Homo sapiens: one gene and its partners. The protein of the gene in region 1 purifies or fractionates together with the protein of each later gene. This does not show direct contact. Each region holds a gene or a part of one and is shown in the gene's direction. Other genes may lie near its edges. The genes, in order: TSPAN11, NRP2, TM9SF4 and ITGA6.

Evidence for each region.
Region 2: the proteins of TSPAN11 (region 1) and NRP2 purify together in Homo sapiens (affinity purification with mass spectrometry; 2 studies listed by BioGRID and IntAct, with this or other methods). This does not show direct contact.
Region 3: the proteins of TSPAN11 (region 1) and TM9SF4 purify together in Homo sapiens (affinity purification with mass spectrometry; 2 studies listed by BioGRID and IntAct, with this or other methods). This does not show direct contact.
Region 4: the proteins of TSPAN11 (region 1) and ITGA6 purify together in Homo sapiens (affinity purification with mass spectrometry; 2 studies listed by BioGRID and IntAct, with this or other methods). This does not show direct contact.

The regions. Positions count from the first base shown.
Region 1 is NC_000012.12:30,957,737-30,964,759, forward strand, and holds part of TSPAN11 (tetraspanin-11), read left to right. Parts: intron 1-6,089; coding exon 6,090-6,281; intron 6,282-7,023.
Region 2 is NC_000002.12:205,685,484-205,692,506, forward strand, and holds part of NRP2 (neuropilin-2 isoform 2 precursor), read left to right. Parts: intron 1-7,023.
Region 3 is NC_000020.11:32,105,101-32,112,717, forward strand, and holds the start of TM9SF4 (transmembrane 9 superfamily member 4 isoform 1 precursor), read left to right. Parts: upstream 1-4,613; 5' UTR 4,614-4,640; coding exon 4,641-4,655; exon of another isoform or gene 4,656-4,939; intron 4,940-7,617. UniProt on the Homo sapiens protein: Associates with proteins harboring glycine-rich transmembrane domains and ensures their efficient localization to the cell surface.
Region 4 is NC_000002.12:172,423,265-172,430,596, forward strand, and holds the start of ITGA6 (integrin alpha-6 isoform b preproprotein), read left to right. Parts: upstream 1-4,321; 5' UTR 4,322-4,524; coding exon 4,525-4,706; intron 4,707-7,332. UniProt on the Homo sapiens protein: Integrin alpha-6/beta-1 (ITGA6:ITGB1) is a receptor for laminin on platelets. Integrin alpha-6/beta-1 (ITGA6:ITGB1) is present in oocytes and is involved in sperm-egg fusion.

The DNA.
Region 1 (7,023 bases):
CTCCCTCCCTCCCTCCTTCCTTCCTTCCTTCCTTCCTTCCCTCCCTCCCTCCCTCCTTCCTTCCCTCCTTCCTTCCTTCCCTCCTTCCCTCCCTCCCTCCCTCCTTCCTTCCTTCCTTCCTTCCTTCCCTCCCTCCCTCCCTCCTTCCTTCCTTCCTTCCTTACATGTGTAGCCCTCTGCTAGGGATATTAAGATGAACGAAGTTTAATCAAGAGGCTAAAAGAGGAGGCACACAAGGTAACCAATAAAATAAATAGAGTATGAGTGTAACTATGGAAACGTGCAAGACCTGGAGTTGGTACAGAGGACAGAATGATTTGCTGGGAGAGGGGGGCAGGGACAGCTCCAAGGAAGGTTTCCTCTGGGCTCTGAGCTGGGTTTGGAAGATGAACAGGTGATCTCATGTTCCCTCCCAGCTCCACCCCTCAGTAAGACTCATGAGATTTTGCTCTTGTTATAGGGGTAGATGGGACTGGGGAAGACAGCAGAGGAGGTAGTGTTCTGATTTATTTTATCAAGGGCTCTTTAAAGCCAGAAAGCCAAAAACAAGGATGCCTCAAAGTGGGAAATAGCCCTTAGCATAACAAGCCTATCCTTGAAGATTCCATAAACCAAGGCAGCAGGAGCATGGGCAGAGCTGGGGAGAAATGCATGCCTGGCACTCAGAGAAGGTCATTCATGAGGAGGGTGAGCAGCAGCACCTGATGCACGCTTTCATGTGCCCTCCTGGAGAGCTCGGCATTTTGGGCGTGGGACTGGGGTGCCGTCCACCCTGCCTGCATGTGGGTATAGGGCTCAGCTGTGCTCTCTCGGGGCTGCAGTCTAAGGTTCAGCTGACTCTTCTGATGTGGGAATGGGAAGCCATTCTGTAAAAGAAACTGAGTCTTGTTCAGACCTGGTCTCCCAGTCCTCTCCCTGAGCCCCCATGCTGTGTTTGCTCCCCAAACTAGACCCATTCACTTCTCCGTCATAGCAGAAGTCACTCTGGTGGTTACTAAGTCAGGTCTTTCAACCCAGTGTCCTACAAGTGATCCTGGGGCAGGGGCAGGGGCAGTGGCAGTGTCAGGCATGGGTCCCTTGATGGCCCAAGAGCGTGGCATCATTGTAGCAGGTGCACAGTGGGTATTGGTTGAAAGAAAGTATGAGAGTAACCAAGCATCAGTCTGACCTTAAGATACCGAGGGCGCAACCCCAGCCTTTCCAGGAGCCTCTTCTTAATGACCCAGAGAAAAAGCCTATTCCTCTCTGGGACTACTGGGACTTTGTGGACTGCCCCTTTAAAAATCAAAACAGCCATAAAGCAGGAAAGAGAAACACTAGCTGTTGCCCCAGAAGCTCGGCAGACAGAGGCAGGTAGGGGAGCAGATGCCATTTCCACAGCCCTCTACAGAGCCTCATCCACTGAGTCTCACACTCACTGGGGCGGCTCCCGGGTACCAGGCCGTGTGCTGGGCCGCGTTCTGAGGGGAGTGAGGGGACTTTCCCTGCCCCAAGTGTCAAGGGCTGCTGTGAGGTGAGCAGCACCACAGGCATGCAGGAGAGGGATGAACTCACCTGCCCAGGACAGAGCAGGTGCCACACTCAAAATCTCAAAATGGGCCTTAGAGGGTGTGTAGGAGTTCAACGGAAGAGAAAGGGCAGAGAGAACAATGCGTGAAAGGTGGGCAGGAAAAAGAGAGAGCCTCCCTGAGGCCCACAGAGGCTGTGTTGCTTATCCAAATCCACACAGCCAGTAAACAGAAGGCTTGGACTCGGACACCGCGCCACGCCCTGGAGTTCACGCTGTTTACCACTCTGCTAATAGTGCCTGAGTTACTAGGTAACCACACTGTTTTCAAGAAGAAGCAACTACTTAGTTCAAAGTGATTAAAACCCAGGAAAAAAAATACAAAAATTAGCCAGGCGTGGTGGCGCGTGCCTGTAATCCTAGCTACTCAGGAGACTGAGGCAGGAGAATCGCTTGAACCTGGGAGGCGGAGGTTGCAGTGAGCCGAGATCACGCCACTGTGCTCCAGGCTGCGCGACCGAGTGAGACTCTGTCTCAAAAAAAAAAAAAAAAAAAACCGAGGTGTGGGGGGAAGAAAGTACCAGAAGATGATGCCAAAAAGTCAGGTTAAGGCCAGACAGTAAGAGCACCGAGGCCATGCAAAAGAGTTTTTGGGCTTGGTGCCTGGGGCATGGGAGCTGGTGGGGACTTCTCAGCCGGGGGTGCCTTGGGGGATCAGCCTGTGGGCGGAACAGGAGCCAGGAGCCGGGAGCCAACTGAGGTGGGGAACCGAGGTGGACAGTGTGGCGGGGAGATGGAGACAGGTTTGAGGGCAGAGGGGAATTGGCACATGGTTGTCATTGAGAGAAGGAGGAGCCTACAGTGACCCTGTGGTGTCTGTGGGTGGGTGGGTGGGTGGGTGATGGCGCGGCGCCATGTATGAGACTGAGCAGGGAGGAGGAGCACAGATGATGAGTGTGGTTCCCATGGGTGAGCTCCTGTCCAACCCAGAGACTTTTCAGTCCAGTGTGGGGCTTGGCATGTAGCAGGTGGCCAGTAAACACAAAGTCTACTATCACCCTGTACACTTCCCATCACCCTGTGCATTTCCCGCATCCTGAGCCATGGGCTCCTCCTCACTGAGGGTGGAGAACTCCCCTCCGCAGAGGATCCTTCCTTATTGGGATTCAAGTGTTCCTGGCTCCTGCCCCATCCCTTTCCTTCCTTCATTGCAGAAGCCCTATGGTAGCGAGACAAAGAAAAACGCCTACATTTACTTTTATACCCTCTGCCTGCTTTCCTCCAGGTCTGCTGCCTTATTTCTCTCGGCCCCTCAGGCATGTGCAGCCACTCAGGTTAATGCTTCACCCCATCATGTTTCTTTCCTATGAACATAAAGTTCCTAAAATTACACAACAGGGGTGACCTGCTCCGCCCCTCCTGGCCAGCTTGCATCCTTGTCGCCTGGCTTCACCCTCTGCAGGGCTTGCTGGCTAGTCGGCCACAGGCTATGGCTTTGAAAAATGTAGTTATTGCCCAGGCGCGCTGGCTCACACCTGTAATCCCAGCACTTTGGGAGGCCGAGGCAGGTGGATCACCTGAGGTCAAGAGTTCAAGACCAGCCTGACCAACTTGATGAAACCCCCTTTCTACTAAGGATACAAAAATTAGCCAGGCGTGGTGGTGCACACCTGTAATCCCAGCTACTCAGAAGGCTAAGGTGGGAGAATTGCTTGAACCTGGGAGGTGGAGGTTGCAGTGAGCCAAGATCGCACCACTGTACTCCAGACTAGGCGACAGAGCGAGGAAAAAAAAAAAAAAGAAAAATGTAGTTATTACCCTCATGGAAAACCACGCTAGATTCTGTAAAGAGCCAAATACTGTTGAATCAACTGTATGCCAATGGTTGTTGAATAGTTCACTGGGGTCAGATCTCTCCCCACTCCATCAAGTCCCTCTTCCTGCCTCTTCTGCTGCTTTCTGCTGACTTAGGCAGTTTCCAGGCGGCTTGAGTGACAGCCATGAGCCATTAATTCAGAACCATCTTGCCGGAGGTTCTTTGACAGAAGCTTGACTTCTGGTACCAGCAGGGACAGTTTAACCATATGGAAGGGACCTCAGATATGGTCCCATCCAGTGCCCCCAGTTTACAGATGAAGAAACTGAGGCTTAGAGGGGCTGCATATCTGTCCCACAATCATGTGGTTAGTCAGGGACACAGTCAGAACTAGAACCCAGGCTGCTGACTTCTGCCCTCCCGTGACCCCCTCTGGTGACCCATCCAACAGTGAGCAGTGTTAATTTTCCTGTCCAGAGAAAAGCTTGTTTTCTAAAGAGATGACCATGTCCCAAGCAGGTCTTCCAAAGGAATGAAACCCTCTCATTCCTTACAGCTAAGCCTAAGGACTGGGACGGGGTGGAGGCTCTCAAAACATTAGATCCTGGGGAAAAGTAATCAAAGGGGTTCCCAGTAGTTACAGGTTGGGAACCACTGGTCTAATACAACTCCCTGATTTAAGAGATGAAGAAGCTGAGGTCCGGAGAGGTTAAGGGACTATGTTTAGGTCACACCGCTAGTTATGCAAAGTTGGGACCCTCACCCAAGCCTTCCAGGCATGCTGAAGGGGGCAAAAAGAATTCCGTGCAGGATATTTGGCTGCAAACCCTCACATTACACAATTTTATTGACCTAAACTCAGGAAATCCCTCACTGGTCATGGAGGTTGTGTGAGCCGCAGATAACCTATACCCACAGATAATTTTAAAACCTATTCTAGGATTTCATTGAATCTAAGATATCATCAGTGGTAAGACACACTATTGTTTTTTGTACCACTAAGAAAAACTACTGCCAAGTACAATTATAAAATACCATCAGTCATAAGATACATCCCAATTTTAGAGATGTTAAAATGTGAGAGAAAAATGTGTGCATCACGGAATTGAAGAAATCTGCGTGATAGCCACTCCCATTCTGTTTGCTGTAGCCCAGATGGTGTCCTTCCACCTGGCTCTTCCACCTGGTGGAGGTGCCAATGGAGATTAAATGGCACTTTGAAGAAATAGTATCTATTAAAAACACAGAGTAGAGGAGCAGGCCCAGCCCAGTCTGTGGGATCTGGGGACAGAGTCCTGGATTTGCTCTCAGGAGACATGGGGTTGAATCTCAATTCTAAAACTCATGGTGTAATCTTGGGCACAGTCTTATTCTCTTCAAGCCTCAATTTCCTCATCTGCAAAATGCAGAATATGTGCCCTGCCACCCTGCCCCATGCTCACAGAGCTGTTGCAAAGCTCAGAAGAGAAAATGGTAAATACATGTTCGTTTGCTCAACGGATGTCTGTGACTGCCCAGAACAGAGAACTGGGAAATGACAGGGTAGGTTATATGGAGTCTTCCTGGGGCAGATGGGGAGCTCCTTTCAGTGACAAGGCTCAGGGGGCATGGACAGAGCCCAGGGCACTTCTCTAGCTTTGACCACGCCCAGGACTCCTTGAGGAAGCATCCCACACCCATTAGAGAAAAGAGACCCATCCTTAAATGGGGGCAGGGAGACTAGCGGGCAGAAGTCCACATTCCCAGGAGCAGATGGCAGAGACGGTCAGAGGTCCCAGGGGTCCTGTCCCCAAATCCTGGGCAAACACCCACATACTCCCCATCTGGCACCCTGAAGATGCTGTGCATGTGTGCATACACACACATTATGCCCTTCTGGGTCCAACAGTCACAGAAAGAGTTACTTGGCTTCATTGCAAATAGAACCAGCCAAGCCGAGCCATCCCTGCTATATTTCCCAAGTACTCCAGTTTCTAAGGAGGCATCCCCCTATCTGCAAATCAGGAGGGTCCTATCCCTCCCCTCTTCTCAGGACCAAAGGGGAATCAGACAATTAGCAAAAAAGTTTCTCCTCCTGCAGTCCCAGGCGGCTCCAGCCTGTCAAGAACCCTGACTCTTCAATCATGGAGGCAGTGTGACTGAGTGGGCAGGCCCTGGGCTCTGAGTTCTCCTCCTGTCTCTGCCCCTAACCCTGCCCCCAACTACAGGCAGGACCTTGGACAATTTACCTTTCCTCCGTGGGTCTCAGTTTCTTCCTCGTAGAGTAGGGATAAAAAGCCCAGCTGTGCTTCCCCAATGGGCAAACATAAGGATTAAACAAGGGGCGGTGCTCGAACGAGCCCCACCAGGGAAGTGCGGACAGAGGGAAGAAGTGCTCTGAAGGGATAGGAGCCAGGGGTGGCAGGAGTTGGGGAGGTGAAAAGTTGGAGAAGCAAAGGGACTCAGATACGTTGATCATCCCTGAAACTGCAGTCCTCTCCCCTGGCCTCATACGCAATAGGCCACCAGGGTAAAAAGCACCGAATTCACAGTCGGACCTGGATTCAAAACCTGGCTCTGCAGGTTGCTTACCTTGGACAAGTCTCCTAACCTCTCTCAGCCTCGATTTCCTCATCTGTAAAATTGGGTAACCATACCATTCTCGCCTCCTTTGGAGGACTGAATGAGCCAGTGCAAGAGAAGTGCCTGGCACCCTGTGGGCACTGAACGGATAGCAGCTGCCGAGGCCCCCGCCACCCCCTGCTCTAACCCGGTGGTCTCCTGCAGGTCGGGGGAGCAGCCGTCCTGGCTGTGGGCATCTGGACCCTGGTGGAGAAGAGTGGCTACCTCAGCGTCCTGGCCTCCAGCACCTTTGCCGCCTCCGCCTACATCCTCATCTTTGCGGGCGTACTTGTCATGGTGACCGGCTTCCTGGGCTTCGGTGCCATCCTCTGGGAGCGGAAGGGCTGCCTCTCCACGGTCAGTGCCCGCCCTGTGCTCTGCAGGGATGGGGAGCCCTGCACCACCCAGTCAGGTTTCCAGCAAGTGAGAGGGGCCCCAGCCCTGGAGTGGGAGGGGCTGAGGCTGTGGGAGTGCCCGAGAAGGGGTGGCTGCTCCTGGGTCTGGGGTTTGCCACGGTCTCCAGGTTCTTAGGACCCAAGCAAGCAGGCGTCTCAGTAGCTGCAGTGGCAGCTCCTTCTCCGTATCTCCATCTCTGTCTCCTCTCACTCCCCTTCTTCCTCTTCCTCTTCCTCCTTCTATTTCTTCTTCTCCTATTCTTCCTGGTCCTCTCCTTCTCCTTCTCCTATTCTGTACCCTTCCCCTCCTCCTTATCCCGTTTCCTTCTTATTCTCTTTTTCCTCCTACTTCCCCTTCTCCTCTCCCTCTCCCTCTTCCTCCTCCTCTTCCTCTTCCTCTTTCTAGGTTTTTTTATGGCAATTTTCAAAGATATGCAAAAATAAAGAGTGTTTTTCATGAAGCTCCATCTTCCCTTCACCCAGAGTTCAACAATTACCATCTCATAGCCGATCTTGGTTCCGTCCACTCTCTCACCTGCACCCTGCCCACTTCCTAACCCCAGGGTGATTCTGAAACAGTCCCAGACAGCATGTCATCTGTTAGAGTTTCAGTGTGTATCTCTAAACTTAAGGACCCTCTTCTAGAAAACATGATAACATTACCATTATCACACTTTAAAACAATTAACAGTCATTCCTTAATA
Region 2 (7,023 bases), on another chromosome or scaffold:
GAGAACCAATTCTGGGAAGGAGCAAGATGGGGCAGAAGGTGCGCGCGGGGGAGCAACTGAGCAAATAACACGGCGGTCGCGGCGCGCGGCACCTTGGGCTGGCGCGTGGCTGGGAGGCCGCATGGGCGACGCGCACCAGGCTGCCCCTCTCCTCACTGCGCCGCCTCGCCAGACCGCAGTGCAGCCGCTAGCCTGCCTCCCTCCCTGCCCCGGGCGCCCCCGCCAGTCCCCTGCGCTCCGCTCTGCGCGGCAGGCTCGCCGCGACCCCTAGAGAGACGGCTTTGAGTGGCGGGAGGCCGAGGCCGGCTGGCTTGGGAATCCAAGCGCTGGCCCAACTAGGTGAGAGGAAACTGGGGTGGGATTTCGGAGAGGAGGGCGGAGAGAGGCGGGAAGGAACCAGCTTGAGCCCCAGGAATGCGCGCAACTTGCACAGCCTCTAGAAGCGCCGCGCGCCCAGCGCCCGCCGGTGCGCAGGAACAGGTGAAGAGCACGCGGCGTGCGGCCATCCACGTGGTGGGGACGTGATAGCCCCTCAGCTCTCCTCCTAGCCCTCCCTCCCCTTCCCCGCCCCCCAGCGCCTTCTCTAACGCCGCATCGATTTGTTTGGGCTACGCAGCAGAAACAGAGCCCAGCGATCCATAAACATTCTATTAAGCAAAAATATTCCCAGCGAAAGCAAAACCGAGGCTGAAGCCTCCGCGAAGTTGGCCGCCTCCAACTACTCCATGCTTGTGCCCTCCTCCTCCTCCTCCTCCTAAGGACACCCCCAGGGAAAAGCCTGCGGCATTTCTTCAACGCTGCCCTATGCCGGAAAGTTAGGTCTCGGCTGCAGCGCTGGTCTCTGGAGAAGCCTCTGCCTGCAGCCGCCGGCGAGTTCCCGCCTCCCCTCCCCAGCCGCCTCGCTCTTTGCTTTTCCACGTGAGAAAAAGAAATGTTCACGGCCGATGCTTCATTTTCACTGATTGATTTCTTTTTAATATCAACACAAGTTAATGGAGGCAAGGCGCGCTCTGATTGAAGGGCTGCCCCCGCCCTTCGACTCGGGCTGGCTGTGCCGGGGGTCTTTCCCACCGGGTCGCAGGCGTCCAGCGGCTGGGTGGCGGGCGCCGGTAGCCCTAGTGTTTGGAGGTGGGGGAGGGATTTGGAATAGACTTGTCGCCCCTCTGGGAATCATCTGGGTTGGGGAACCTTCGGGAATCAGCTTTCCAGACCAAGTTTTAGGGGATCTTGCCCATATGCGTTGCGGCTTCTGCGGCTCCGGCTGAATTTCTTCTAAAAGATAGGAGATCCACGCTCAGGTTTATTGGCGTGTGCTCCCTGCTCGGCTCCCCTCCCTCCACTTCCTGTTCTTTCGGTTTCAGACAGAGAGGAGAGCCCCCTGGCGCTAGCCATTCCCGATCAGCGCCCACTACGAACGTCCCCTTTGCTAGAGTTAATCATGATCTGCGGGGGGACTGGGTTTTGCTCAGAAAATCATTCAAGTCCTGACAATGGGTTTCTTCAAATGGTGGCAACTCCCAGGCCTAATGTCCCCACCTCCGGGACACATCGCTTGGGGCCAAAAGAACCCAGACCCCATAACCATCTACCCCTCCCCTCCTCGTCTGGAGAGCTTTGATCTATGCTTGGGTTTTAACGCCATTGCCATGGACACGCGCAGATTCTCGGTCAATTCACCCTTCCGTCTGGACTGGATGATCAGATAAGAGGTGTAAATTGGCTGTGGGAGACAGGTCTGGGTTCAGACAAATCCTGAAAGAGAAGCAATGACGGTCTAGGCGCCGGATAAGGGTTTGAAGTGTTTCTTTTAGCCTGTCTCCCCAAAATGTGAGATGGCCATTGGCGAGCATAATAATTTGCAAGTAAACTGTAAACTCCTAGATTTTACGCAGACGGCCTGCTCTGGGCTCTAGGGATTGGTCTCATGCCCACATTAAATGGGTACCCAGTAAACATTTTTCCCCCGTGATCAGCTCCTGGAGGTAGGGAAGCTGTGGCCAGTTGCCAGCAGAGCACACAGTGCAAGACAGTGGCAAGAGGAGCACTCCCCAAAGGGCCCCGGGCAGGCCCCTACTCGTCCAAGCGGTGCCTGGTGGAATTGTGAATGCGCCAGTGCACATCAGGTTTGGAGTTTTATGTCATCCCATAGAGCCCTCAGACATTAAGCTACGGAGCACTCAACTGGCAAAATGAAAGATTGGAAGGCTGCAGTGACTGGAACCCAGGCTACCCAGACAGGACTCCTGCTGTCTACCAAATGGCTCTGATCCCCTGCTGTTGAATGTATCAAGTCCACGTTCTGCAGCAGAAAGGCCAGTTCCTATCTTCCAGGCATAGAAAAAGCTAGGAATCCAAATGCCAATTCATATGCAGTGAGGCACGAATACAAATGACAGTGAGGGAGGGGTCTGGGGTCAGTGAGGAGAGACACCAGGGACCAGATGATTCTGGGGACCCTGGTGTTTTTCATTTCACTCAAGTCTTCCCTAAAGCAATCAGGAAAATGAACTGACTCAGGATGACCTGAGTGTAAGACAATTCTGAGTTGACAGAATTCAAGAGCCAGGTAAAGAGGTTTCCAAATATATTCTCCAAAGGTCCAGTTTGGAAAGACTTTAGGAACTTGAGCTGAGATCTTCCTTTCTTAAAAGATAGAGCAAAAGAAGAATATCTTTTTAATTTCTTGAACTGACAAGAAAGGACTTGAAAAGTGTCATCTGGGCAATGGCTTGTAGTGTTATTAACATATTTGAGGTATTTTATTATCTGACCATCACTTGCAACTGGATAATCTTTGAGATACCTTCCTTGAGTGGCAGATAAGTATATTGATCACCAGAAGTTAGTCTTTGTACTGTTCCTTCCAGGTAAGGACTTGGCTGTTTGCTGATTTTTGTTTTTTAATTAACCCATTTCTGGAAGATGCTGCAGAAGTTTGTCCTGGAGAGCTACAGTATTTTTCAAAGCTTTATCTGCCTTGATGAGAAATGGTCAGAGGCTTAATGGTTTCATTGCCTAACAGGATTCAGTGGAGTAGGATTCCAGGACACAGTGGCCTTGTATCATGGCTGGCCCTCCAGGAGAAAGCATCTTCTAAAGGTTTAGGAAGCTGTCAAGTTTAGATAAGGCTGAGCTCCGATCCTCTGGGACCTTGGTTGTATTAATAAGGAGAAATTAATTTTTAACCACTGGGAACATTGCCAAATTATGTGACCTTTGGCAGACCAGCTGTGCTATAAAAATAAATCCCCCATTTCTGAAAATGCTACTCCTATCCAGTAGAACAATAACAATGTGGCATTTAGGATAGAGAAGAGTAGGATTGAGAAGAAAGGAGAGAAATAGGAGTTGGCAAAAAACAAAAAAACAAAACAAAACAAAAAAAACAAAAAAACCCTTCGATGTTGTGATACATGGTTTCAGACCTGAACTTCCTATCCATCACCCGCCCTCCCCGGCCCCATGCCTAGGGTTTCCAGAACACAGGAAAGAGGGCCAGGATGACAAGGAGCTGAGTGCCTGTGTGTACAGGGAGTGGAGAAGGTGTTAAGTGCTTCCAGCCCACTCACACCCCAGCCTCAAACACATCTCTCATTGTTCACACAGACAGAGTACTGGCACAGGCAGAGAAAAGGGGGTTTTCAAACAGGCAAAATATTTGTCTTTCCCTAAATGCTACCAAGTAGGTTTGCCACTGAGAAGTTTTGTGGGGATCATCCCTGGCCTTCCCAGCTTCTGAAACATGGGAACTAGACTGCCTGGGTTTAGAATCTAGCTCAGCCACTTGCTGGCTCTGTGATCCCAGTATCCTGTGTGATCAGATACTTAGTCTATGTGCCTCGGTTTCCTTGTCTGTAAATGTGTTTGGTAACAATACCTACTTCATAGGGTTGTTGGGCTATGTCAGATTATGTAGAATACTGTTTGGCACATATGAAGCCCATTCTGAAGTCACTGAATCTTTAAAACTGTTTCAGTGGGGTTAGTGGAATCTCGTGATCGTAGAAAGCACACTATAACCATTGTGGTAAGTTGATTTTTATGAGATTTAAAAAATAATTCTTATTCTCAGTTCTTCCACCACCAAACCTCTGTGTTTTGTAAGCACCATATTATCTCTCGCCATGCTCTTCTTCAGAGAATATTCTCTGCTGAGTTCTTATCTTAGATTTATGTCTCCCTTGCATTTTTTCCCTCCTTCTTCCTCTGTTTTCAGTATTCTTACCTCCTATTTTCTTTTTAATCTCTCATTTCCTTTCCTTTTCCTCCCCTTCCATCCTTCAACACTGAGAGTGTGCTCAGCAGGGAACACCGTGTTTAAGGCGCTCTCCCGAATGTGTAATAACTTCTACTCTGGCACTAAGGCCCTTCAGCAGCTGAACTCAAAAAAGTCATCATAAAGACAAAATAGCTTTTACCCAGCAAGGGTCTTAATAATCCCATTTCCCTCTGGGTCTTCATAAAGGAGTCATTATCTAATCCAGAAAAAAAGGAGGGGCTGGGAATAACAAAAGAGAAGCTCTCGGTAGCACAGAGTGCACGAGGCTGCCGGCCAGCTGAGTGCACGTGGCCGTGGTACCCTGCTCCCGCCTCCACAAATCCTGCGATAACCAGTAACCAGTTCTGGCGAGTCTTTCAGCAGAGAAGATAATGGGAATTGCAAATTACTAGACCGAATGCTAATAATAATTGTTTGGATACAGGAGAAAAAATAAAACAGATGTTCCCCAAAGGCATTCTAGGGGCTACAGAAAGGAAAATGAGGAGGGGGTTGAGTAAAGAGAGGTTTGCTGAAACCAAGCACAAGAAAATCCAATACCAACAAATGGCTTAGTGATGAAGTAATAGTCAGCATCTTCCTGGTGGTACAGATAACCAATATTTAAAGTTGCCTTTGGAAGTGTGGGGGTTGGAGTGAAGGGGACAAAACCCCTGAGATAAATTAATTTTACTAGTATTAAAAATAAAATGGCCGAGCATGGTGGCTCATGCCTGTAATCCCAGCACTTTGGGAGGAGGAGGTGGGCAGATCACCTGAGGTCAGGAGTTCGAGACCAGCCTGGCCAACATAGCAAGACCCCATCCCTGCTAAAAATACACACACACACACACACACACACACACACACACACACACACACACACACAATAGCTGGGTATGGTGGTGGGCGCCTATAATCCCAGCTACTTGGGAGGCTAAGGCAGGAAAATCGCTTAAACTTGGGAGGCGGAGGTTGCAGTGGGCCGAGATTGTGCCACTGCACTCTAGCCTGGGTGACAGAGTGAGACTCTGTCTCAAAAAATAAAATAAAATAAAATAAAATGTGAATGTGCTTTGAAATTTATCATTATTATCTGCTTTAGGGTGTTCTAGGAGACATAGTTCGCACTAACTCTACCTTGACCTACTTGTGACTAGGTATTATTATCCCAGACAAGTTATTCAAACTCTCAATTCACCACTAAGAAACATTTGCACTTAATAACAGCTGGGGGTGGGGAGGGAAGCGCAGTAGCTGTGGCCGCAGAATAATTTCTGATAGAACTCTCAGAGTCTGTCCTATCTAGTGATACCTTTGATGTTCCTTTGGTCACTTCTTAATTGGTTAATTCACCAAATCTTGATGAGTCTGACTTTTGGGAAAGGTTCTGGTTTGATCCTGTAAGACTTGCCAAAGATGGATCAGCAAGGAGTCATGACCTCAAGTTGCTGGTGGCTCAGTAGACTGGATGAGGCCCTCCAGAACTCTCACACATCTCAGAAGATGCTAAAGAGCTTCAGCCTCTCAGATGCACAGAGGAGAAAGACCACTCCCAGTATGGGAGAGGAGAAAGGGCAGAGGCAGCCTGGAGTGAGAGAGTAGGTGGGATTTAGAGCAGGGAAGGGCATACCAGGGGAAGGGGAAGGTGTGAGTAGAGAAATGGATGCTGGGTTGGTTTGGGGAACACTCAGAAGCTGCAGTTTAGAATGTATGGTGGGAAATAATTGCAAACAAGATTATAAATAATAGCTTGGGCTCAATTCAAGGCCCAAATTGCTAGGCAAAGAGGTTTGGGTTTCACTTGCTAACCAATGGGGAGCCATTAATGTTTCAACATAAGCTTCAGTTAATCAAAATAAATGAAGACAATATTATATTACTTTTTTTTCTCCTTTGGTTTTTGGAGAGACCTCAAAATTATTCTTCTGTTTCCTTCCCCAAATGTCTCCTAAAATGGTCAGGAATTGTAATCCCAGATCTCTCATCAATGGCATCAAAATTGCATTTGCAATGAGGGCTGGAAAAGAGAGGACATAAATATAAACTAATGACATTATATCGGCTGCCCTATTGGAATTGCATTTGTTTATGATATAAGATGACAAATAATAAGGTTAACACAGGTGGCATGATTCGAGGTCAGGAGAGGTAATCGCATCAAACTTACATTTTACCGATTAAATGAGGCTTCATTTTTAGAATCTAGATTGAGGGGAGAGATGTTCAAAAGGCCCCATTTCCAGACCCAATTTCCAGTTCTCTCCTAAGTGAATTCATTGGAGGTGTTTTAAGAGAGGGAATTTGCTTCATTCTTTATTCATTTCCAAACTCATATGCTGGCTTCCTCTCCTGCTCTCTGCTTCCCTCTCTCCTTCCCTCCTAGATGGCCCTTTTATTCAGATTTTGAACTTTATCATTTCAAAAGTTCAGAAGGATTTCCATTTGCTGTGCCTTCAGGAGTGCATCATTCACTGCCACCAGTCTCCATAAATTGAGTAGATTGCATCCCTTCCCAGTTGCCTTAGGAAGTGGTCAAACAGCCACATTCCTGGGCTGATGGATTGGCTCATTTCTTCCCAGCTTAAGCCAAGATACAGATTTTATGAGACTGTCTTGTGACAGGCTGAAGTTGCTTTGAATAAAACAAAATCCAGCCTCAGCTCACAGAAATAATTCTTAAAACGCAGCTTATCCCGGGTTGGTGAGCAAAATTTGGTTAAAACCCTGAGCCAACGACTTAGATGATCTGGGTGAGGGATTTG
Region 3 (7,617 bases), on another chromosome or scaffold:
GAATGGATAAACAACTTGTGGTATATTCACATAATGGGATATTATTCAGCACTAAGAAAAAAGAGTTGACCAGGTGCAGGTGCAGTGGCTCACACCTATAATCCCAGCACTTTGGGAGGCTAAGGTGGGAGGATTGTTTGAGCCCAGAAGTTTGAGACCAGCTTGGGCAACAAGTGGGACCCCCCCCCCCACCATATCTACAAAGAGTTAAACATTTAGCTGGTTGTGGTGGCATGCAACTGTGGTCCCAGCTACACAGGAGGCTGAGGCAGGAGAAACACTTGAGCCCAGGAGATTGAGGTTGCAGTGAGCCGTGATTGTACCACTGCACTCCAGCCTGGGCAAGAGAGTGAGACCCTGTCTCAAAAAATAAATAAATAAATAATATTGGCCAGGCACGGTGGTTCACGTCTGCAATCCCAACACTCTGGGAGGCCAAGGCAGGTGGATCACTTGAGCCCAAGAGTTTGAGACCAGCCTGGGCAAGATGGTGAAACCCCATCTCTACAAAAAATACAAATATTGGCCGGGCATGGTGGCAGGTGCCTGCAGTCCTAGCTACTCAGGAGGCTGAGGTAGGAGACCTACCCAGGAGGTCTAGGCTGCAGTGAGCCGTGATTGTGCCACTGCACTCCAGCCTGGGTGATAGAATGAGACCCTGTCTCAAAATAAATAAATAGCGGGGCACAGTGGCTCACGCTTATAATCCCAGCACTTTTGGAGGCTGAGATGGGTGGCTCACTTGAGGCCAGGAATTTGATAACAGCCTGGCCATCATGGCGAAACCCTTTCTCTACTAAAAATACAAAAAGATTAGCCGGGCTTGGTGGCAAACACCTGTAGCCCCAGCTACTGGGGAGGCTGAGGCAAAAGAATCACTTGAACCTGGGAGGCAGAGGTTGCAGTGAGCTGAGATTGCACCACTGCGCTCCAGCCTGGGCGACAGAGTGAAACTCTGTCTCAAAAAGAAAATTCAAAAATAAATAAATAGGCCGGGAGTGGTGGCTCACGCCCGTAATCCCAGCACTTCGGGAAGCCGAAGCGGGTGGATCACCTGAGGTCAACAGTTGCAGACCAGCCTGGCCAACATGGTGAAACCCCGTCTCTACTAAAAACACAAAAATTAGCCTGGCTTGGTGGCGGGCACCTGTAATCCCAGCTACTCGGGAGACTGAGACAGGAGAATCGCTTGAACCTGGAAGGCGGAGGTTGCTGTGAGCCAAGATCATGCCACTGCACTCCAGCCTGGACAACAAAAAGCAAAACTCCATCTCAAATAAATAATAAATAGATAAATAAACCTTTTAAAAAGTTATATATAATATTATATATATTTTATATTTATAAATATATAGTTATATACTTATATTAAACATAGATTATAGTTTACAGCTGCTGTGTTTCTATATCTTAGCTATTATGAATAGTGCTGCAATAAATACGGGGGTGCAGACATTGATTTCATTTCCTTTTGGATATATACTCAGAAGTGGGATTGCTGCATTATATGGTAGTTCCATTTTTAATTTTAATTTTGATGAACATTCATACTGTTTTCCATAGTGACCGTACCAATTTATGCAAGAGTTCCCTTTTCTCCACATCCTTGCCAATACTTATTATGTGTCGTTTTGATAATAATGGTTCTAAGAGGTGTGAAATGATTGCTCATTGTGGTTTCGATTTACATTTCCCTGATGATTAAGGATGTTGAGCACCTTTCCATTTACCTGCTGGCCATTTGTCTGTTTCCTGAGAAATGTCTGCTTAGATCTCTTGCCCATTTTTAAACCAGGTTATTTGGGATTTTTTGCTATTGAGTTATTTAAGCTCCTTATATATTTTGGATATTAACCCCTTATCAGATCGTTTTTGATTTGTAAATATTTTCCTCAGCTCTGGAGGTCACCTTTTTACTCTGTTGTTTCTTTTGCTGTGCAGAGCTTTTTAGTTTGATGCAATCCCACCTGTCTATTTTTGCTTTCGTTTCCTGTGCTTTTGGTGTCATATCCAAAAAATCATTGCCCAAGCCAATGTCAAGTTTTCCCTATGTCTTCATCTAGTAGCTTTACAGTTTCTGGCCCTATAAGTCTTTAATCCATTTTGAATTGATTTTGTATATAGTGTGAGATAAAGGTCCAATTTCATTCTTTTGCATGTGGATATTCATTTTTAGGGATGACGAAAATGTTCTGGAGACGGATGACGGTAATGATTGACAACTTTGTGAATGTAGTTGATTTCACTGATTTGTGCACTTAAAAATGATTAAAATAGTCAATATTTAGTTATGCATATTTTACAACAATGAAAAATATTTAGGCCGGGTCCAGTGGCTCACACCTGTAATCCCAGCCCTTTGGGAGGCCAAGGCAGGCAGATCACTCGAGGTCAGGAGTTCTAGACCAACCTGGCCAACATGGCGAAACCCCATCTCTACTAAAAATACAAAAACTCAGCCGGGCTTGGTGGCATGCACCTGTAATCCCAGCTACTCAGGAGGCTGAGGCAAGATAATTGTTCGAATCCGGGAGTCAGAGGTTACAGTGAACTGAGATTGCGCCACTGCACTCCAGCCTCGGCAACAGAGTGAGACTCCATCTCAAAAAAAATTTTTTTCAGAAAAAAAAGAGAAACTTGCCCATGTTATGGAGCTAATGAGTGGTGGAAATGCGTTCTGAACCCAGGCAGTCTAGTTCTAGGATTCTGGCATATGTCACCAAAAGAGATTGGGATATGAAAGGCCTTTAGGGAAAAATACAAAGCATGAGAAAAAAAATGGAAATACTAAAAAATAATAGGCCATTTATGGAGCTTTGCTCCTTATCAGTTATCTTTCTTCAGGCAGCTAGAAATGGTGGGAAACACTCAGGATCGAAGCTCTAGGAAAACTGGTTCCAAGTCTGGAAACTATGAGACTGCAGCAAATTCCCCCTAGTCTCTCAAGCTTCCTCCTCCTTGGGGTTAATAGCCAATCTGCCAATCTTCAGGATGGTTGTGCAGGTCACAAGAGTTAATGGGTGTGTGTTTCAATGATCTATTACTGAAATGATCTATAATAAACCACCCCACTCTAAAGCTGGGCTTAGCTGGGCAGTTCTTTTGGTCCACATGGTGTTCATGAGGTTATTCATGTAGCTGCATTCAGCTAGTAGCTCAGTGGGGGTTGGAATGTCCAAGATGACTTCAGTTACATATTATAGTGCTTAGCTGTAGTTTCTAGAATGTCTTGAGGAGTTGGCTGGGCCTCCCTCTCTCTCCAGGTGCCTTTCCAGCAGAGTAGCTACACTTCTTTATAACCAAGAAGGTAGAATCAGACGTTTTCAATCCTCTTAAGGCCTAGGCTCAGTACTGGCAGAATCACTTGTAGCACATCCTATTGGTCAAAGCAACCAACATGACCAGCCAGATTCAACAGGAGGTAAAACAGAGTCTATCTCTTGAGGAGAGAAACCGTATGCTCATCATGCAAGGACGGACAGAACTACGTGGCAGCCATCTTTGCAGAAAATCCACCACAGTGGTGCCCATAGGTGGGGATCAGAGTTCAACTGTCCCTTGCCCCCTAGAATTAGATAAAAAGAGTCTAATGAACTGTTAGCATAATGCTAAGTGCTGCAGCACACAAAATGCTCGGCAAGTGCTGATGATTATTATTAATCATTATTATTCTTTTAATAGCTTTTTTAAAACAGTCTAAGATAGCACTGGTACTGTATTCAGTTTAAAGTGATATACATGGGTCAAATGAACTTTGAGTTCTTTCCCAACCTTAATACCATGATTCTTTGAGTCTCTTTTTCACAGATTTGGAAACTGAGGCTTAGGAAGATTGCGTGACTTGTCTGGAGTCACACACTAAGCTAGTGCATGACGTCCACATTCAGAGATATCTCCCTCCACTGAATATGCTGGTTTTCACTCGTTCATTTAAAAAATAATGTATTGGGCATCTACCACAAGCCCAAAGGAGTATACATAAACATATACTGACAATTATTTATTGAATACATCCTATGTAATACTGTGTCACTGAATCCTCATCACAAGCCTATGATGAACCAACCCCCTTCCCATTTCACAGATGGGAATGAGGAAGAGCAAGGTAAAAAACGAACAAACAAAAAAACAGGGTCCACCCTCATGGGGATTACAGTCTACTAAAGAGGATATAGGATAGTCAAACAAATACTTAAAATCAAACAAATACTTAAATATATAATTACAAATTATTCTTGGAGTCGTACTGCTCTTGGAGCCCCAGTGCCCACCCTTTCCCTCAAATCAAGGTCTCAGGTAACCCTGGCAATGGGTCTTCCTGCCAGTAGTAAAGATGGCGCTGAGAGCACGAGCGCACTTTCGCACACCCCCATTACCCACAATGCAGCGGGAATAAGGGAGGCTCAGTTTCTGCCAGGAGCTAATATGGCTTCCTTAGTTACACCGTTCTCTCTCTTCACCTAATCAGCGACCTTACTTTCCCAGACCAGACTGTCGAGCAGGAGCTAAGACTCCTTTTCCCCTCTGCTGACCGCCACTACAGGAGCGGTTGAAGCCAGACGACCACCTTGTGGAGTTAAACTCCGTAACCAGGGAGCACCACTTCCGCTGACGTCATTACGGCGACACGTGGATCCAAGATGGCGACGGCGATGGTGAGTGAAGGAGACTCCGGGAGCGGGAGCTGGAGCGGGGCCCTCCGGGGTATCCCAGGATCTTCCAGCACCCCATGCCTGGCCCTGAGCCACCTCCGGGACCCCTGACTCAGGCCTGAGGGCTACCTCTGACTGGGCTTGTCTTCCCCGAAATCCACCTCCCTGGCCCTGCCCCTGCACTCAGGCTTGTGAAGGCCCCGAGTTTTGGGGGAGGCGCCGTTTCGGAGGAAGACCTCGGCTGCTGCCTTCGCCGGTTCCCATTCTACTTTTGGTCTCCGCCCACTGTGAGCCCCATTTTCCATTTCTCACCTCCCTGTCCTGACCCCTCTGAAGACCCCCTCCCGTTATTCTCATCCTTGCTCCTCCCCGTCACGTCCAGACCCTGCTCTCCCCGCCTCCCCACCATCATAACCAGTCCGCAGATGTGACCTCTCCTCTGACCACCCTCCCAGCCCAAGCGCTGCCTCAGATCCTTTTCAGAGCCCTGTCCTCACTTACACTCATAGCTGTCCCCATCGCGCACCCCCTTGACTGCCGCTACCCCAGAGCTTGCCTTCACCTACCCCACCCCCATCTTTCATCCCTAGAGGCTTCCCTGCCCTTCCTGTCTTCTCTCAGTCAACTCCCTGCCCCTCTCTTAGGGACCTTTTACCCTGTTGGTTCTCAAACTTTACTGTGCATAAGAATCTCGAGGTGTGTAGGGGGAGGCATGCTAAAAATGCAGTTTCCTGAGCAGCCCCACTCCCAGAGATTCTAATTCCATAGGGCTAGGTGATGCCCAGGAATCTGCCCTTTTATAAGCACTCTAGTGATTATATAGTGGAGGTGGTCTGTGAACTACGTTTTGAAAAACACTAATAGCCCCACCTCACTGCTCTCCTTCCCATTCCCCAACATGGCCACACAGCTCGTTAGGGATGAAGGCTCTTTATTATGAAGCTATATGTTGGGATGAAGTCTGTGTGTGGATGAGGGTGGAGGTAAAATAGCCATGCTTGGAAGTTGGGTCAGAGCTTGCGGGCTCCTGGTGCAGAACCTTGGAAGTAAATCTTTGAAGGACTGGCCCTTTTTCTAAAAGTTTAGTTCAAATTCTGCTTGTCAAGAGACCAGAACTAAAATTGAAGTCACTTAGTCCAGAATGATTTCCTGGGTCTTCCTGCATACTGCCTCCTCAGCAGATAATTTCGTCCGGGGAGTGAATGACAAGGAAGACTCAGAGAAAAGGAAATGACATTTGACTTTAGCAAAGGAAGATTCTGGCTTAAATAATTTGGTGTTGGTTTTCTCCAAACAGGGATATATTATTGACTGGTAGCAATTTTCCCTCCTTCTCTTAGCTGACTGAGAACTTACCTTTGTTTAATGAGGGATTCCTTATTTAGAACTTCAGAGGTCAGGTAAAAAGATTTCATGGCCTTACCTGGTTTCTGTGGTTTCAGACTTCAGGCTGAACCACGAGTGGGGCAAATCCTCAAAGTAGTATGTTGAAACCTACATATATGTATATATATTCTGGTACCACATTCAGAACAGAGATAGTGTAAGAACTTAAAAGGAAATCACACCCTCTCTTGCTATAAGGAAAACATTGAGTAAAGTGGTATTTACGGCACTGCACTGGGAAATCCCTGCCTTGTTCAGAGATTTTTAAGAGGTTATAAGCTAGCAATACATATATGTGGTACACATCTATTTAGTCAACAAATATTTGAGTACCAATTCTGTTCCAGGAACTAGGGATGTAGTTGTGAATTACAGGGTCAAGGTCCCTACACTTGTGGAGCCTTTCTGGTTTGAGGAGACAGGCAGTGAACAAGTAAATACGTGAACAAAATAATGTCACCAGTAGATGCTGTGAGGACAGCAAAATGAAGTGATAGTGATTAGGGGTGACTGGGTGACACAACTACTTTGGATTGAGTGGTCAGAAAGAAGTCTTCTCAGAGGAGGTGACTTGAGTTAAAACATAATTAACAAGAAGGAACCAGCCATGCAAAGAATGTTCCAAGCAAAGGAAATGGCAAGTGTAAGGGGCCGATGTGGAAGGGAGCTTGGTGTTTTTGAGGAACACACAGAAGGCTGGAGGGGCCGAAGCATGATGAGGGTTGGGGTAGGAGAGAATGATACAAGATGAAACTGGAGGGAAGCAAGAGCAACTGTTTTGAGAAGCATGCCTGGAAATGGGAAGGACTGCGGTCTACATTTTGTTGTCTGTGGATTGCATTTTGAAATAGTGTTGTATTAGGCTGCTTCCCCTTCCCATCCCCTTCAGGACAGTACTTGAAGGGAGCCAGCTTGTTCTCAGTTGGCACAGAGGCTGTGGAAAGGAGTTTGGATTTTAGTCTAAGCACAGTGGAAGGGACAGTGATTTTTGCCCAGCACAGTGACTCACACCTGTAATCCCAGCACTCTGGGAGACCAAAGCTGGGAGATCGCTTGAGCTCAGGAGTTTGAGACCAGCTTGGACAACATGGCAAACCCCTCTACAAAAAAAATACAAAAAGAAAAAATTAGCTGGGCTTGGTGGTGTGCACCTGTAGTACCAGCTACTTGCGGGGCTGAGGTGGGAGGATCACTTGAACCTCAGTGAGCCCTGATCACTGCACTGCACTCCAGCTTTGGCAACAGAGCGAGACCCTGTCTTAAGAAACAACAACAGGCCGGGAGCAGTGGCTCATGCCTGTAATCTCAGAATTTTGGGAGGCTGAAGCAGGCAAATCACTTGAGGCCAGGAGTTCAACACCAGCCTGGCCAACATGGCGAAACCCTGTCTTCTAAAAATACAAAAATTAGCAGGGTGTGGTGGCACACACCTGTAATCCCAGCTACTCGGGAGGCTGAGGCACAAGAATCGCTTGAACCCGGGAGGCGGAGGCTACAGTGAGCCAAGATCGTGTCACTGCACTGCAGCCTGGGTGACAGAGTGAGACCCTATCTCAAAAAAAAAAAAAAAACAAAAAAC
Region 4 (7,332 bases), on another chromosome or scaffold:
CCGTATCTTGAAAGACTGTACACAGGTGGGAGCTCTGGTTTTGATGCAACATTCTAAGTGCTTTAGATAACATCAACTCTACTAATTCTTAAGAGAAAGCAACTACTGAGGGGTAGATGACATGTTGTTATTTCCGGTTTACAGCTGGGAAAACGGAGACATGGAGAGATTAAATGGCCTTGTGGCTAGCGTGGAGCAGAGGCAGGATCCGTAATAAGGAACTTGGGTTCCAGAGACCATGTGCTACCCACTCTCATGGATGGCCTCACATTAAAGGGCTCCAGGAAATATGTAAAACTGTTGGGATAATGTAACCACAGAAAGAGAATAAAGAGATGTTTTCATTAACTAGTTTCTTGAGACGGAGTCTTGCTCTGTTGCCCAGGCTGGAGTGCAGTGGTGCAATCTCGGCTCAATGCAACCTCTGCCTCCCGGGTTCAAGCGATTCTCCTGCCTCAGCATCCTGAGTAGCTGAAATTACGGCACCTCCACCACGCCCGGCTCATTTTTGTATTTTTAGTAGAGATGGGGTTTCGCCAAGTTGGCCAGGCTGGTCTCGAACTCCTGACTTCAGGTGATCTGCCTGCCTCAGCCTCCAGAAGTGCTGGGATTACAGGCATGAGCCACCACGTCCGGCCTAATAACTAGTTTTTATGTTGCATGAAAAAAGCAAATATATTCTCTGCTGTTAGTGATGATGAAGTCAATATAACAGTGAACATGATAACAAAATGATTAAAGTAGGTCTCAGGGAATGGAAAATATATTAGGTATGACATGGATTCTTCAGACTTCTCCATAAATGACCAATATTCTAAAATTATCTTGAAAGCTCTTCTACAGAGGGTGGGATATAGTACAAATAAATAATTTTATTTTGAAAAGTGTACTGGTAAAACATAAGAATTCAAAAGCTCTCACCTGAGCAAATGCCTCTATGCATAGCTTTCACTGCCTTTTAATTAAAAATGTTCAGTTTATAGAAGTTTCTTCTGTGATGTGTTATTTCGTTTTCTAATCGGCCCTTTTTTTTTTTTTTTAGACACGGTTCTGCCAGTTAACTGGATTTGTAGGGCCCTTCTTGCACTGTGCATGTCTTGTTTTCATAGGCATGTGTGCTAGCACACACACACACATGCCCCATGCCCTATATACTCAGCACACCTTTATCACCAAGCTATCTCTCTCCCTTTGGTTCCAGACAAGTATCTTCCTGTCCCAGATTTTGTTTTCCCCATTAAAACTGTGTACTCCCTCCCCAGGTCTTTAATTTTTAGGGCTCTGAATTCTTTTATTCCTTTGGCCCCAGAGATTGATGTGTCCTCAGTGGATCCAGAATGACCTCTAAACCTCCTTTTTGTAAGACACTTTTGTAAAACACCCAACTCTGTTTTACAATGGAAATAACAACTGAGTCACAAAACTTGATTCTTTTTTTTTTTTGAGTCAGAGTCTTGCTCTGTCACCTAGTCTGGAGTGCAGTGGTGCAATCTTGGCTTACTGCAACCTCTGTCTCCCCATTTCAAGTGAGTCTTGAGCCTTGGCCTCCCGAGTAGCTGGGATTAGAGGTGCCCATCATTAGACCCAGCTAATTTTTGTATTTTTAGTAGAGACGGGGTGGTGGGGTTGGGTGGGGGGGAGTCTCACCATTTTGGCCAGGCTGGTCTCGAACCCTTGACCTCAGGTGATCCTCCCACCTCGCCTCCCAAAGTGCCAGGATTATAGGCGTGAGCCACTGTGCCTGGCCAAAACTTGATGGTTATAGTCAGAAGGAGCTGACAATCTTCAAATAAATTATGTCAAGAGTGAGGGTTTGACTCAACTTCAAGTATCTTCGGCATCTATGTTGAGAGTGAGAGTTTGACTCAACTTCAAGTAGGTAGGAGACAGGTGGCAGGTAGGAGCACTGAGCTAATAAGTTTTCCATTTGCGATGGGCACTTGACATATTCCAGAACAAGACTCCCAGCCTTGTTTTTCTTTATCTGAACCTCTTCCCACACAAGCATAATTTGCTTCAGTAGTGCTATACATGTAGTTGTGATATTTAAATTTAATATTATTTAGAATTTCAATTTGAGCACAATCTGTGTTTGGGATAAAGTAAATAACTCTGGCCATTCATACATCATCCACTAAACACATCTTGGGAAGACAGGAATCAATGGTCCACAGAATTACTCTTAGAAGCAAGGGGTGATATTCAGAATAGTTAACAGCTGGTGTGACATGGGGATATCCAAGCAGAGGGAGCCCTTGCTGCATCAGGGCTTAAGGGCTTAAACTTTCATTTGCCAGGTTGTGAGGAAGTTGCTTAGTCCTAGGAAAATGGGCAGGGCAGGGATGGTTGCCTGTGAGGAACTAAGGGCAGCAGCTTTTATCAACCAATTCAGAATATTTCAGTAACCATTACAGCCAAATCACCAGCTCCTGGCTGAGTACACTCTGCAGTGAGGTTCATTATACTATGCCTATAATAGTCTGGACCCCATCTCTCTGGAATAGTACATATTTTACACGAAGGGAAAAGGCTAACTTGCAACTTATTTGCATGAAAAATCACGTTGCAAGTACTTCTTAGTTTACTAGATTGTCTCCAATAGTTTCTCAACCTTATCAAGATATATTTGTTAAAACTGTGTGCTCTCCAAAATCATCTACTGAATTTAAACCACTGCACCCCACTTTGGACTATAATTGACTGGAGTTACTGATTGGAAAGGAAGTGGTACACACCCCTAATATACTGACGGACTTACTCTGACAGCTGCTACCACCTGTGGGGACCCTTGATGATGTTCACGCAGCTTTTCTGAGTGGCACATGCTGTTCTCTTGAATACTCCTTGAGGTGAAGAAGAGGCCACCCCTACCCCTATGCACACACAGCTCCTGCTCTTTCCTGGGGCTGCACCCTGCTTGTATTTCCAATGCAGGGATGTCAGATTCCAAAGAGGGCTCCCCAAGGCATTCCAGAAGGCTTCAGGCCAGCACGTCCCAACCTTTTCATGCCATGGGACCCCTTTGGCAGGCTGCTGAAAACCATGGGGTTCTTCTCAGAATAAGGGTTTTAAATACATAAAAGAAACCACAAGAGGTTACAAAAAAAGCCAATAATATTGAAATGTAGCTAACAAAATGTTTTTAAAAATTTGTGCTAGAGCAATATATATGCTTCATTATTGACATATAATATCTGGCTGATTGTCTAATAACTACTGTTATTTGAGATACTTGCAACAACTGTGATGTGATGTAAAAACCTATGGTTTCTAGTGATTACTAAGTCATAAATACTTATCCTACTGCTACTGTAGTTTGTTGTCTACGTTCATAATGGCAAAACGTGCTAAATGTCAGAGGTTGGTGAAAATTAAGACGTAAATTTTTTCTCATCCAAGTTCACAGTACTCTTGAATTAATTACCTCTCCTCGGGTTAAGAACCCCTGCAGGATAAGGTTGCCCCTAGGGCCAACACCTCACTGGAGCCCCGCCTCATGTCCTGGAGGCAGGAGCCTTCATGCCACCTACACAGAACTCGGAGCTGTCTCTTGGCCCAGCAGTTCTCCCCACAACTAGTTCTGAAAGTCCGGGGCTAGGAAAGAACGGCATCGTCGCCTGAGCTCCTGGCGCCACTTTAAACAACCCATCCTTGACTTGCGTGACTTCTTCCACAAGCTCTCCTGGTCACCTGGGCAAAATCCTAGGTGATCTGGGGACAAGGCGGAACTTCGGTTTTCTGATCTGCAAAAAGAAACACCTACCTCATAGGACTGTTAGGATGAATTGAGGTAATGGCTGGGTTGTGTACATTATACAGCACTATCAAGGTGTGCGCTGTGATCATTTTTGAGGGTTGTTAGGTGTTTGAGGACCCAGAACAGTCTACACAGCTGTAGTCCCCAAGTGTTGGGCACGCCTTAAGCGCTCCATAAACACCTGTAGAAATGAATGAATGACGTATGCATCTGCACGTGGGCCCACATCTGCAAGAACAGGCTGCTCAGGCCATGAGGCCCGGTGCATCACCTGCACTTCTCTTTATAACGGGTAGTAAAGTCTCCCTCGCTCTGTGCTACTCGGCAACCACAATTCTGTCCACAGAGGGCGGCGCAGTGGGGCTGCTTCGCCGCGAGCTCGCCTCCGGGGCTCCCACGTCGTGGCTTCCGGGCAGGTACCGGGCAGCTGGAGACGCCAGAGCCGGCGGGTAAGGTGCGGGCGGTGCGCCGGGCCGCGGGCGCGCAAGGAGGGGCGAGAGGGTGGGGAGGGGCGGGGCCGGCGTCCTCGTCACTTGATAAAACGCCTGCGAGTCTCCAGAGAACAACGGGCTCATTCAGCGGTCGCGAGCTGCCCGCGAGGGGGAGCGGCCGGACGGAGAGCGCGACCCGTCCCGGGGGTGGGGCCGGGCGCAGCGGCGAGAGGAGGCGAAGGTGGCTGCGGTAGCAGCAGCGCGGCAGCCTCGGACCCAGCCCGGAGCGCAGGGCGGCCGCTGCAGGTCCCCGCTCCCCTCCCCGTGCGTCCGCCCATGGCCGCCGCCGGGCAGCTGTGCTTGCTCTACCTGTCGGCGGGGCTCCTGTCCCGGCTCGGCGCAGCCTTCAACTTGGACACTCGGGAGGACAACGTGATCCGGAAATATGGAGACCCCGGGAGCCTCTTCGGCTTCTCGCTGGCCATGCACTGGCAACTGCAGCCCGAGGACAAGCGGCTGTGAGTTCCCAGACCCTTCCCACCCCCACTGGGGCGCCGGCCTGCGCGCGAGTTGAGGCGAGGGCGCGCCCTGTTCCCGCCGGCCCCGGGGAGTAGTTGGCCCGTGGGTCGCGCCCGGGCCGGCCGAGGCGCACCCAGCGCCCAGCGCGCTCGGCTCCCCGCCCTGACCCGCCCCGCGCGGCGCCTCCCTCCATTCAGCTCGGGAAGGAGGAGAACCCGAGGGCTAGGCTGGGCCCCGGGAGAGTTTACTTTTTTTTCTGTTTTAAACAAAGTGCTTTCCGCCGGTTCTTCCCTCCGGGCGTGTTTGCTGGGACCCCGGCAGGTGGCACGCTTTGCTGAGCTTCACGTGTGTGTTTGGGGCTGGGGTGGCGTTCAGGGTCACCGCAGCGCTGCTGTGGGTTTGCAGGGAGCGTAGTTCCAGGATGGTCTAGGCCTTTCCCAAACTCACGGTGCACCCCGTCTCCCCCGCAGACTGGCGCGCCCCGCACAAGTTGGAAAGCCACTTTCCATGTGTCCTGCATGACTTTCTCAGCAAGGCGGGGGCGCTCCTTAGGAGATACTTTTACATGCCTTTGAAAAAAAAAAAAAAAAAGATGGGGGTGGGGGCGGGAATTAACCAAACACCTGTTCGCTGGACTAGATCAGCTGAGAAAACAAGTCTGAGTGATGTGCCCAGCCCCCAAAGTACTCGGCCGCACCCGAGACCCGCTCGGCTCCTGCGTTGGGCGGGCACAGCCAAGGGGTTAAAGCAAAATGTCCGATCTGAGCCTGGACTTTGCAAACAAGGTTTGTAAGGGACAACCCCCCACCGTAGCGGTAAACCTCCCAGGAGAAAGAGGAGACCGGCACTACTGGCCTCTCCTTTTATTTCTTAAACAGTGTTTGGTTCCCACATGATCGGCTATTTAAGCCGGAGAGGGTATTTTGGCGCTTAGTCGCCTTAATCGCTATGGGGTTGCATTCTTCATCTGTGCTACTGAAAAATAGGCTGTAGCAACAAAAGGTCTCCCCTCCCCACCCAGGCCTTGAGTTGAACTAAGGACCTTCCAGGACCAACAGACCGGAGAAAGCAAAGTGCAGCCACAGTGAAGAGATTTTGTGTTTAGGAGAGGCGAATGGGATTTTAGAACTGGAGGAAACCTCTTGATTTCAGCGGTTAACAACTTTGGAATTCGTGAATGTTGCAGCCCCTGAATTTTAGTCAGTTTTTTTTTTTTTCTGATAACACCTGCTAGGTGAAGCACAGAAATTAGCTGGGGGTGGGGAGGCTCTAGGAGGGTGGTCTGAGGCTATATGCCTGGCCAGCTGCTTATACTCTGCTTTCTCTCAGAAATAATTGTTGTTAAGCTGTAAATCTGAAATGAAAGGTTCCTGTTAACTCAGTTAATAGATGACGTTTATTGTCTCGGAATACTTGGTGTGTAGAATTTGAGCTTGTTAGTGCAGAAATGATTGTGGGCCAGCAGAGGGAATTCATTCTCCTGGGCATTCTCTCTCTGCACCAGAGCCCCACTGAAACCGGTGGCTTCCTTGAAATACTTGTTCAAGCAAAAAGTGTGAAGGGAAAGTACTGGGACAAGAAATATCCTGGCAGTGGAGATTTGCGAAACGTGACTTTGCCAGGAATCTGTGTCGTGAAGGTTAGCAGCATGCTTGCTAAAACTTGTTACTGCTGCTGGGCTTCTCTGGTATTAGAGCTGAGGCAACTCCTCCCGAGGTAAGGATAAGCCTGCAATGGGGTCTGATGCCTTCTAGGAAAGCTCTTCTTAGCAGCTGACAGAGGGGAGAGGCCCCGTATAAGGAGACTGTATGTTTCCTAGAGTCCAAAGGCAGTGACCACACTTTAAAGAGGCTGTGGTTTATGTCACGTGCTGCCCACCTCCATGCTTTTGTAAAGCTTTATTCCAGCTTCAGGAATAGCATTGGTCTTCCCAGGAGAACCAGCACACACAGGCCATAGCACAGGTCAGTTGTCAACCTTTGACAGTAAAGAATGTGGGTGTAAATGGCAGAGCCAGTAAGACTGAGAAAACTTCTGGACCAGCTTCCTAAACTCTATGGAAAAACTCAGTGGGGGTCTTTCAGGGACCTGGTGGGAGAGAGACCTAAGCTGAGATTCCTTCTCGGCCTTTTATTAGCAGCTGTTAATTTACTTTGAGCTTTAATTTCTTTATCTGTAAAATGGAGATATTACTGCTTACTGGGGTTATTATGAGGATTAAGAGATAATATGCAAAGTGCTTAATGCCTGTCTGGCATGGGTACTTGCTGACTAAATGGTAGCTGTTAATGATCATTTAAAAAGCAGTAATTGTGTACCTACTGTGTGTCAGGTACCTTACAAGGTGTCTTAAACATTCTGTGATTCTAAGATTGCCTGAGAGTAAAGCCAAAGGTGGTTGTTTTTGGGTAATGATATTTTAAACTCAGTCATATTTATGAAACCCATGTTCAAAGCAACTTAACTTTAATAGGTCTTAATTAGACTTATAACAAAAGTGAGTTTAATGAACAGAGGACTTTGAGGAAGGAGAAGTAAAATATCAGATGCATGGGACGGTCAGATAAAAGCACGATCATAGAAGACCTATCATAAATGTTTGTAGTTCAAATTTTCTATAGTGCC